Linked DNA regions of Homo sapiens. The protein of the gene in region 1 purifies or fractionates together with the protein of each later gene. This does not show direct contact. Each region holds a gene or a part of one and is shown in the gene's direction. Other genes may lie near its edges.

Region 1 (4,407 bases):
CAAAGATGCAAGATAGAATGTGACTTCAGTCACATGAAGGGGACAGAAAAGAAGCAGTTATGGGAGGAAGGCACAGCAATAGAGTAAATGATTTACATTTCTGGACTTTTTTTCCAAATAGCTTCCTCTGCAAAATGAAAGGTCAGCATAGAACCTAGTCAAGCCCCTACGGGAAAGGATCAGTGACTTCACAGCCCCAAAGCTCTCTGAGTTGAGCCAAGTGACAAACTCCAACAGGCTTAATCCAAAAAAGAATGGAATTTATTGGATCATGTACAATGAACAGTCCAAGAGTAGATTCAGCCCCAGAATTTCAGGCATAGCTGGATCCAGCACTCAAACCCTGCTGTCAGCAATCTGTCACTCTCTAGAGCCATTTACCCATTAGGCCCAACGGGATGACAGCATAGAATCTGTGAGTTTTTCAAAGCTCTAGAAATGTGTCAGAGACTCTCCCAAATAGTGTTTGACTTCAAAATGTGAAAAAAAGAAAATGACAAAGTAGCAAATGTGTCACCATGCGGTTGATCAACTTCCCCCAGCAGGTCTACTGTTCCTGCCCAGCACTGCTCTCTCCTAATTGCCAAGGACAGCAGATGCTTCTTCATTCTCTTCACCTGTGTCCTCTCCACAATCATTGGCGTCGTTGACCATTGTCTCCTCCTTGGCATTCTGTCTTCTGCCAGCATCCCTGGCACTCCACTTTCCTCCTGCCTCTTAGGCTTGTTTTTTTGTTCTTCTCTGATAAATAATGAATGACAAGGGATGAGCCAGGAGAAGGGTTGGGAAGTGATTCCCACAGCCTGGATAGTTAAGAGACTGCAGTACTTCTGGGAGGGGCTGGAGTGAGGGGATAAAGCATGAGGTTGGAGTTTAGGGAGGGACCAGATCAAGAAGGGTCTGGCAAGTCACACTGAGGAGTTTGGCCATTCTCTTTAAAGTAATAAGGAGCCATTGAAGGTTGTAGCAGGAGTGTAACATGAATAGATTTGTGTTTCACTCTTAGAAAGAGACCTTTGGCTGTGGGGTGAAGGACCTCAGGCTATTGTAGTGTTTCAGGAGAAAGACCATGGTAGTCAGGTGAAACAGTGACAGCCATAGGGATGGAAGAAAGTGGAGGATCCATGACCTATTGACAGGGCTTGGTGCAGTTTAGATGTAACAGGCGAGGAAGAGGGAGGCGTTAGGATGATACCGAGGTTGCTGATTCTGAGGCAGGAAACAGAGAAGTGGGCTTAGAGGGAGAAATGATGAGCTCGGTTTGTACCTGTTGAGATGGAGGTGCTTGAGGGACATCTGGCTGGCCATGTCCAGGGGTGGGGGATGGTTGGTGAGTCTGGAGCTTGAGAGAGAGGTCAGGGCTCCCTGCATCAGTCCCTCCCCCGTCAACACCAGAGGGAGTCTCTTGGGAGGTGTCCCCCTCCTGCCCCATAAAATTGGTCACATTCGATCAGAATAAAGGACCTCCAGTGACCGTGGGTCATGCTTCTTTAGAAAGGATCCTCACAGCAAAATGCATTCTGGGAGGAGCTTCGAGGGCCACAAGGAAGGGGAAGGAAGAGGAGGGGACAGAGCTGTGAGACATCGAGCTTTTCTTTGCAGATCTGAAGAGCACAGTCAAGACCACAGACACCCGTGGAGGCTCCCCCAAGACATCTGCTTCTCTGGGACTGGGGACCTCGCTCAGGACCGTGGGGAGTTGGCTGAAGGACTTGGGGAGCCCAGAAGCTGCCACCGAACCAAGGTAAGTGCTGGCTTGGATGGAGATCGCCAGGCAGGCAGATCTGAGCAGAACAGATAGAGGGGTGGAACGGAGGGACCTGGAAGGGGAGCCCCTGGGGGGGCTGAAACACCCCTGGCTCTTATTTATCCAGGCTCAGGGCTGCCAGGGCCGTCTTTCTGAGAAGGGTGACCTCAGACACTGCAGGGTAATTCTGCCAAGTTAAGATTGTTTCAGCCCATTTTCACAAGATGAAAAGACACGGGACCCTGTGAGAAGGACTCTCCTTTCTTCTGGAATCCTGTACATGCTGTTAATAATAGGACTAATGATTGATGCCCGGTGCTGCAGAGTACACCCATTTTCCCATTTGATTCTCACCAGCATTTAGAGGTTGACTGGATAAGTGTTTTAGTGCCATTTTATAGAACAGAAGACTGAGGCTTAGGGAGATGAAGCAACTTGCCAAAGATTGCAGAGTGGGTTAGCAAGGAGCAGGACTCAGTGTGAAACATCTGGGTCCCAGTCTGTGCCCTTTCTGGGACATCATCTGCCCATCACTTTCCTGGGGAATTTGGTGAAAGTCATGCTGGTCTGGCTGATTCTCTTCCTATACACAAATCCAGTATCTTCTATGTGTGCCAGAGTCTGACCGAGGCCTGGTCTCTGTCCTTGAAGGGCTGACTGCTTGCAAAGAGGGTCTGAACACAGCTGCGAGTGACCAACTCAGAACCTTCAGGGTCCTCAGCGAGCCAGGAGGTGTGTGGTGTGTGCAGGATGAAAGAGACTGCAGGGTGCGGGCTCAGGGAGGGTCCCGTGGAAGGTGGTGCCTGGCTGAGGCTCAAGGGAGGACCTGGTGTGCAAAGAGGAGGCAAGAGGCACCTCAGCAATGGGGAGCAAAGTGTGCAAACCCCCAGAGGCAGGAAAGCAAGTGGGAAAGTCAGGTGTTGGGGGGAGCACAGCTAGAGGGGGTGTGTGGAGCACTCGCAGGCCGGTCCTTTTTTGTTGTTGTTGAGACAGTCTCACGCTTTTGCGCAGGCTGGAGTGTAGTGGTGCGATCTCGGCTCACTGCAACCTCCGTCTCCTGGGTTCAAGCGATTCTCCTGCCTCAGCCTCCCAAGTAGCTGGGACTACAGGCACACACCACCACGCCTGGCTAATTTTTTGTATTTTTAGTAGTAATTTTTTGTGTTTTCACCGTGTTAGCCAGGATGGTCTTGATCTCCTGACCTCGTGATCCACCCACCTCGGCCTCCCATAGTGCTGGGATTACAGGCATGAGCCACAGCGCCTGGCCCGGTCCATTTATTTATTTAGCTCTATGTGGTTTTCAAATATCATCTCATTTAGTCTCATGACAAGCCTATGAGGTAGGTGTTGTTGTCAGGTCCCCTTTAAGATAGGGAAACTGAGGCACGGAGGTTTTAAGCAAGCAGCCCAAGTTGCCCTATTAACAGGATTGGAATGCCACCTGCCTGGCCACCATGCCCCGCTGCCTCACACTAGAACCTGCTGCAGGCCCTACACTGTCTCCACGAAAGCGCCTCGGCTGACACGGTGGCTGCAGATGCCAAGCTGCAGTCATCGCCATCTGGTCCCTGCTGCATTCAGGCCCCACCTGAATTCAGATCCCACCAAGCTTCCCTGCCCCTGGGAACAATGCTCCCCCACCCCCACCCCACTGGCTCTTTCATATCCAGGTGTTTCCTTCCAGCCAGAAGCAGACACAGCTGAGGAAACAGGCCTGTCCTTGTCCACGGGGGCCAGCCAGGGCAGCAGGACCCTCACCTCCCGGCTCCTTGGGAATCTGAGAAGTAGACCTCATGGGGGCAAGGGCTAAAGGTTGAGGGGGCCCCCTCAGGACCCAGAGCTCTGTCCTCTCACTCCCTTAGTCCCTCACTGCCAGCTCACTCACCACACGCTCCGATCCAAAAAAAAAAAAAACACAGCTATGACGTCTGGCAAGCCTGAGCTGCCCCTGAAACCCTGAGGGCACGAGGCAGCTCTGGTGGGAGAAGAGGGGAGGCAACAGAGGCAGGTGACCCAGGCTCTGCAGGTCCCCTCTCTCTGTGCCACAGGAGTGGCTGGAGGACAGGAGGCAGACAGAGTGTGGCCCTGGGAAGCTCCCCGTCTTTTCTGCCAGGGCTTTATTCCTGCAGCTGTGGTATAGGGAGGCCTGGAAGCTCCACATCTTTTCTGCCCAGGCTTTATTCCTGCAGGTATAGGGAGGCCTAGGTGGTGGGTTCTTCTGTCTGAACAGCTTGTCCGAGAAGCCAGCAATGGTGAGCTGGGGGGATGGGGGCACAAGGGACAGTCAGATCTGGAATCTTCATGTTCAGAATCTTCAGGTTCAGAAACTCTGAACCTGAGCCAGGCTTCCTCAGATCTTCCTCCAAGCCCTCTTACTTCAGTCTTCTCCTCTATCCAGGAGGTCACCCCCACTTTATCTCACACCAACAACAGGGAGCAGCAGCTGTGAACAGGTGGTCCCCATTTGCTTCTTTTTGCCGTGTCCATAGAAGGCTTCTATGGTTCTGTGGTCAGTCCTTGGGCTTGTTGTACCCCAAGGGAGTGATGAGCTGTGTGTGTGCACCTGGCCTGCGACTTGTTCAGTGCTGATGTTCTGTGTTTAAGGAAGAATGCTCTCTGAATCCCAATTCATTCATCCCTTCATTCTTTGTCTCTGA
Region 2 (3,809 bases), on another chromosome or scaffold:
TCTACCATCTGGAGAGGGGGATGTGGCAGGACAATAAGTTAATAGAGAGGAGAGGGTCAGCAGGAAAACATGTGAACAAATGTCTCTGTGTCATAAATAAGGAAAGGTGCTATGCCTTGATGTGCATGTATACAAACATTAAAGAGCAGTATTGTCGCTAGCACCTCTCACCTCCAGCCCTAAGGCTGTTTTCTCCTATCTCAGTAAATAGAACATACAATCGGGTTTTAAACCCAGACATTCTATTGCCCAGGGACAAGCAGGAGACAGATGCCTTCCTCTTATCACAACTGCAAAGAGGCCTTCCTCTTTTACTAATGCTCCTCAGCACAGACCCTTTACGGGTGGGGTGTCGGGCTGGGGGACAGTGTCGGGCTGGGGGACGGTCAGGTCTTTCCCTTCCCACAAGGCCATATCTCAGGCTATCACATGGGGAGAAACCTTGGACAATACCTGGCTTTCCTAGGCAGAGGTCCCTGCAGCCTTCCGCAGTGTATTGTGTCCCTGGGTACTTGAAATTAGAGAATGGTAATGACTTTTAACAAGCATACTGCCTTCAAGCACTTTTTTAACAAAGCACAGCCTGCATAGCCCTAAATCCATTAAACCTTGAGTCAACACAGCACGTCTCTGCGACACAGGGTTGGGGTAGGGTTACAGATTAACAGCATCTCAAGGCAGAAGAATTTTTCTTAGTACAGAACAAAATAGAGTCTCTTATGTCTACTTCTTTCTACATAGACACAGTAACAGCCTGATCTCTTTCGTTTCCCCACAAATCCATATAGTATTTGAGTGTGATAATGTAAAAATCAGTATTCATTTCTAAATCTAAGTACTGCTTTGAGAATTTTGTTGGTAATTCCAGTTGCTGCTGCTTCAGCAGAAGGAAGCTTCTCCAAATTAAAATAAATTAAAAACTTGCTAAAAACTATGTTGACTCAAGAAAGCTTGTCTTTTGCCATTTTGTCAATAGAAGTCACGTTAAGTATAAGAACATCATCAGGGGCCGGGCGCGGTGGCTCACGCATGTAATCCCAGCACTTTGGGAGGCCGAGGCGGGCGGATCACGAGGTCAGGAGATCGAGACCATCCCGGCTAAAACGGTGAAACCCCGTCTCTACTAACAATACAAAAAATTAGCCGGGCGTAGTGGCGGGCGCCTGTAGTCCCAGCTACTCGGGAGGCTGAGGCAGGAGAATGGCGTGAACCCAGGAGGCGGAGCTTGCAGTGAGCCGAGATCCCGCCACTGCACTCCAGCCTGGGCGACAGAGCGAGACTCCTACTCAAAAAAAAAAAAAAAAAAAAAAAAAAGAACATCATCAGGCCAGGCTTGGTGGCTCACGCCTGTAATCCCAGCACTTTGGGAGGCCAAGGTGGGTGGACTGCCTGAGCTCAGGAGTTCATGACCAGCCTGGGCAACATGGTGAAACCCCATCTCTACTAAAAAATACAAAAAATTAGCCAGGCTTGGCAGTGTGCACCTGTAGTCCCAGCTTCTCAGGAGGCTGAGGCAGGAGAACTGCTAGAACCCAGTTGCAGTGAGCCGAAATCACACCACTGCACTCCAGCCTGGGCGACAGGGCAAGAGTTGGTCTCAAAAAAAAAAAAAAAATCAGTACTCCCTGGAATGAAGCCAAGAAAAAATATTTTAATGGAATAAATACATAACTTATTAAATGCATCTGTGTGTGTGCATGTGTGTGTGTGCACGTGTGTGCGTGTGTGTGTGTGTGTGTTTGCCATTCATCTGCCATCACCAGCCGATTAACAAATGACCCTGGTATGCACAATAATAACTAAGTTAAGTCATCATTGGTAGTTTGTCAGCTTGCAGTGAGCCAAGATCACACCCCTGCACTCCAGCCTGGGCAACAGTGCAAGACTCCGTCTCAAAAACAAAAAAAAGTCCGGGCGCAGTGGCTCACACCTTTAATCCCAGCACTTTGGGAGGCCAAGGCAGGCAGATCATGAGGTCAGGAGTTCAAGACCAGCCTGGCCAAGATGGTGAAACTTCATCTCTACTAAGAATACAGAAAAATTAGCTGGGTGTGGTGGTACACGCCTGTAATCTCAGCTGTTTGGGAGGCTGAAGCAGAGAATTCCTTAAACCCGGGAGGCAGAGGCTGCTGTGAGCTGAGATGGCGCCACTGCATTTCAGCTTGGGCAAAAGAGCAAGACTCCATCTCAAAAAAATTTAAAAAGTAGATTTTAGGTACTCTTACCACAAAAAAATAAAGAAAGGTAATTGTGAGATGATAGGTATGTTATTCTAGTTGACTGTAATCATAATTTCACTATGTATATCAAAACATTCATGGCTGGGTGTGGTGGCTTATGCCTGTAATCCTAGAACTTTGGGAGGCCAAGACAGGCAGACTGCCCGAGCTCAGGAGTTGAAGACCACCCTGGGGCCAACATGGTGAAACCCCGTCTCTACTGAAAGACAAAAAATTAGCCGGGAGTGGTGGTGCATGCCCATAATCCCAGCTACTCAGGAGGCTGAGGCAGGAGAATCACTTGAACCTGGGAGATGGAAGTTGCAGTGAGCCGAGATCACACGACTGCACTCCAGCCTGCGCCACAGAGCAAGACTGTCTCAAAAAAAAAAAAAAAGTTCACCTTATATACAGTGAAACATATATACAAGAAAAATACCGATTTTTCAAGATACATTTACCACAGTAACAGGATAGAACATACTTATAACTTCCCAATATTAAATATATGGTATGTGGGCCTCCAGTTGTATTTGTATTGTTGCCATGGCCCCTTGCAAATGTTAGAGGTGGGCCTGCCACCAGCAGGGACTGGGAGAACCCTCCTTCCTTATCTAACAGGTAAAGGGTAACACTGTTACTTTAATTTGCTCTTCCCTTTCCCTGACAGTGAGTTTGAGCATTTTACATTTGTTTATGGGTTTTTCCTTTTTACAAATTTGCCTAGTTTTGTCCTACACTCATTTTTTCCTTTGAATTATTTTTTCCCTTTCTTATCAGTCTCATTGTTTTTTCTTTTACATTTTTAACGTTCTTTATAGATAGATGGGATTTCTCTATGTTGCTCAGGCTGGCCTTGAGCTCCTGGGCTCAAGTGATCCTCCTACCTCTTCCTCTTGAGTAGCAGGAACTACAGGCACAAGCCACTGTACCTGGCTCTTATGAGCCTTAAGGTTATGTTCTGCTGTAAATAAAATTTTAAAAAATCCCAAATCTGCTGTTTTTATTTTGCTTTTGCTATGGTATTTTTGCCACATAAAAGATTTTAGGGCCAGGCGTGGTGCCTCACGCCTGTAATCCCAGCAGCTTGGGTGGCTGAGGCGGGTGGATCACTTGAGCCCAGGAGTTTGAGACCAGCCTGACCAACATGGTGAAACCCCGTCTCTACTAAAAATACAAAATTAGTCGGGCATGGTGGTGCATGCCTGTAATCCCAGCTACTTGGGAGTCTGAGGCAGGAGAATCACTTGTACCCAGTAGGTGGAGATTGCAGTGAGCCAAGATCACGCCATTGCACTCCAGCATGGGCAACAAGAGCAAAACTCCATCTCAAAAATGAAATAAAATAGGCCGGGTGCAGTGGCTTACGCCTGTAATTCCTGCACTTTGGGAGGCTGAGGTGGGTGGATCACAAGGTCAGGAGTTCGAGACCAGCCTGGCCAACATAGTGAAACCCCATCTCTACTAAAAATACAAAAATTAGCTGGGCATGGTGACACACGCCTGTAGTCCCAGGTACTCGGGAGGCTTAGGCAGGAGAATAGCTTGAACCCATGAGGCAGAGGTTGCAGTGAGCCAATATCACGCCAC

Evidence for each region.
Region 2: the proteins of PIK3R6 (region 1) and ASRGL1 purify together in Homo sapiens (affinity purification with mass spectrometry; one large-scale study listed by BioGRID and IntAct). This does not show direct contact.

Annotation. Positions count from the first base shown.
Region 1 is NC_000017.11:8,864,866-8,869,272, reverse strand, and holds the start of PIK3R6 (phosphoinositide 3-kinase regulatory subunit 6), read left to right. Parts: upstream 1-1,598; 5' UTR 1,599-1,744; intron 1,745-4,407. UniProt on the Homo sapiens protein: Regulatory subunit of the PI3K gamma complex. Acts as an adapter to drive activation of PIK3CG by beta-gamma G protein dimers.
Region 2 is NC_000011.10:62,382,315-62,386,123, forward strand, and holds part of ASRGL1 (isoaspartyl peptidase/L-asparaginase), read left to right. Parts: exon of another isoform or gene 1-934; intron 935-3,809. UniProt on the Homo sapiens protein: Has both L-asparaginase and beta-aspartyl peptidase activity. May be involved in the production of L-aspartate, which can act as an excitatory neurotransmitter in some brain regions. Is highly active with L-Asp beta-methyl ester.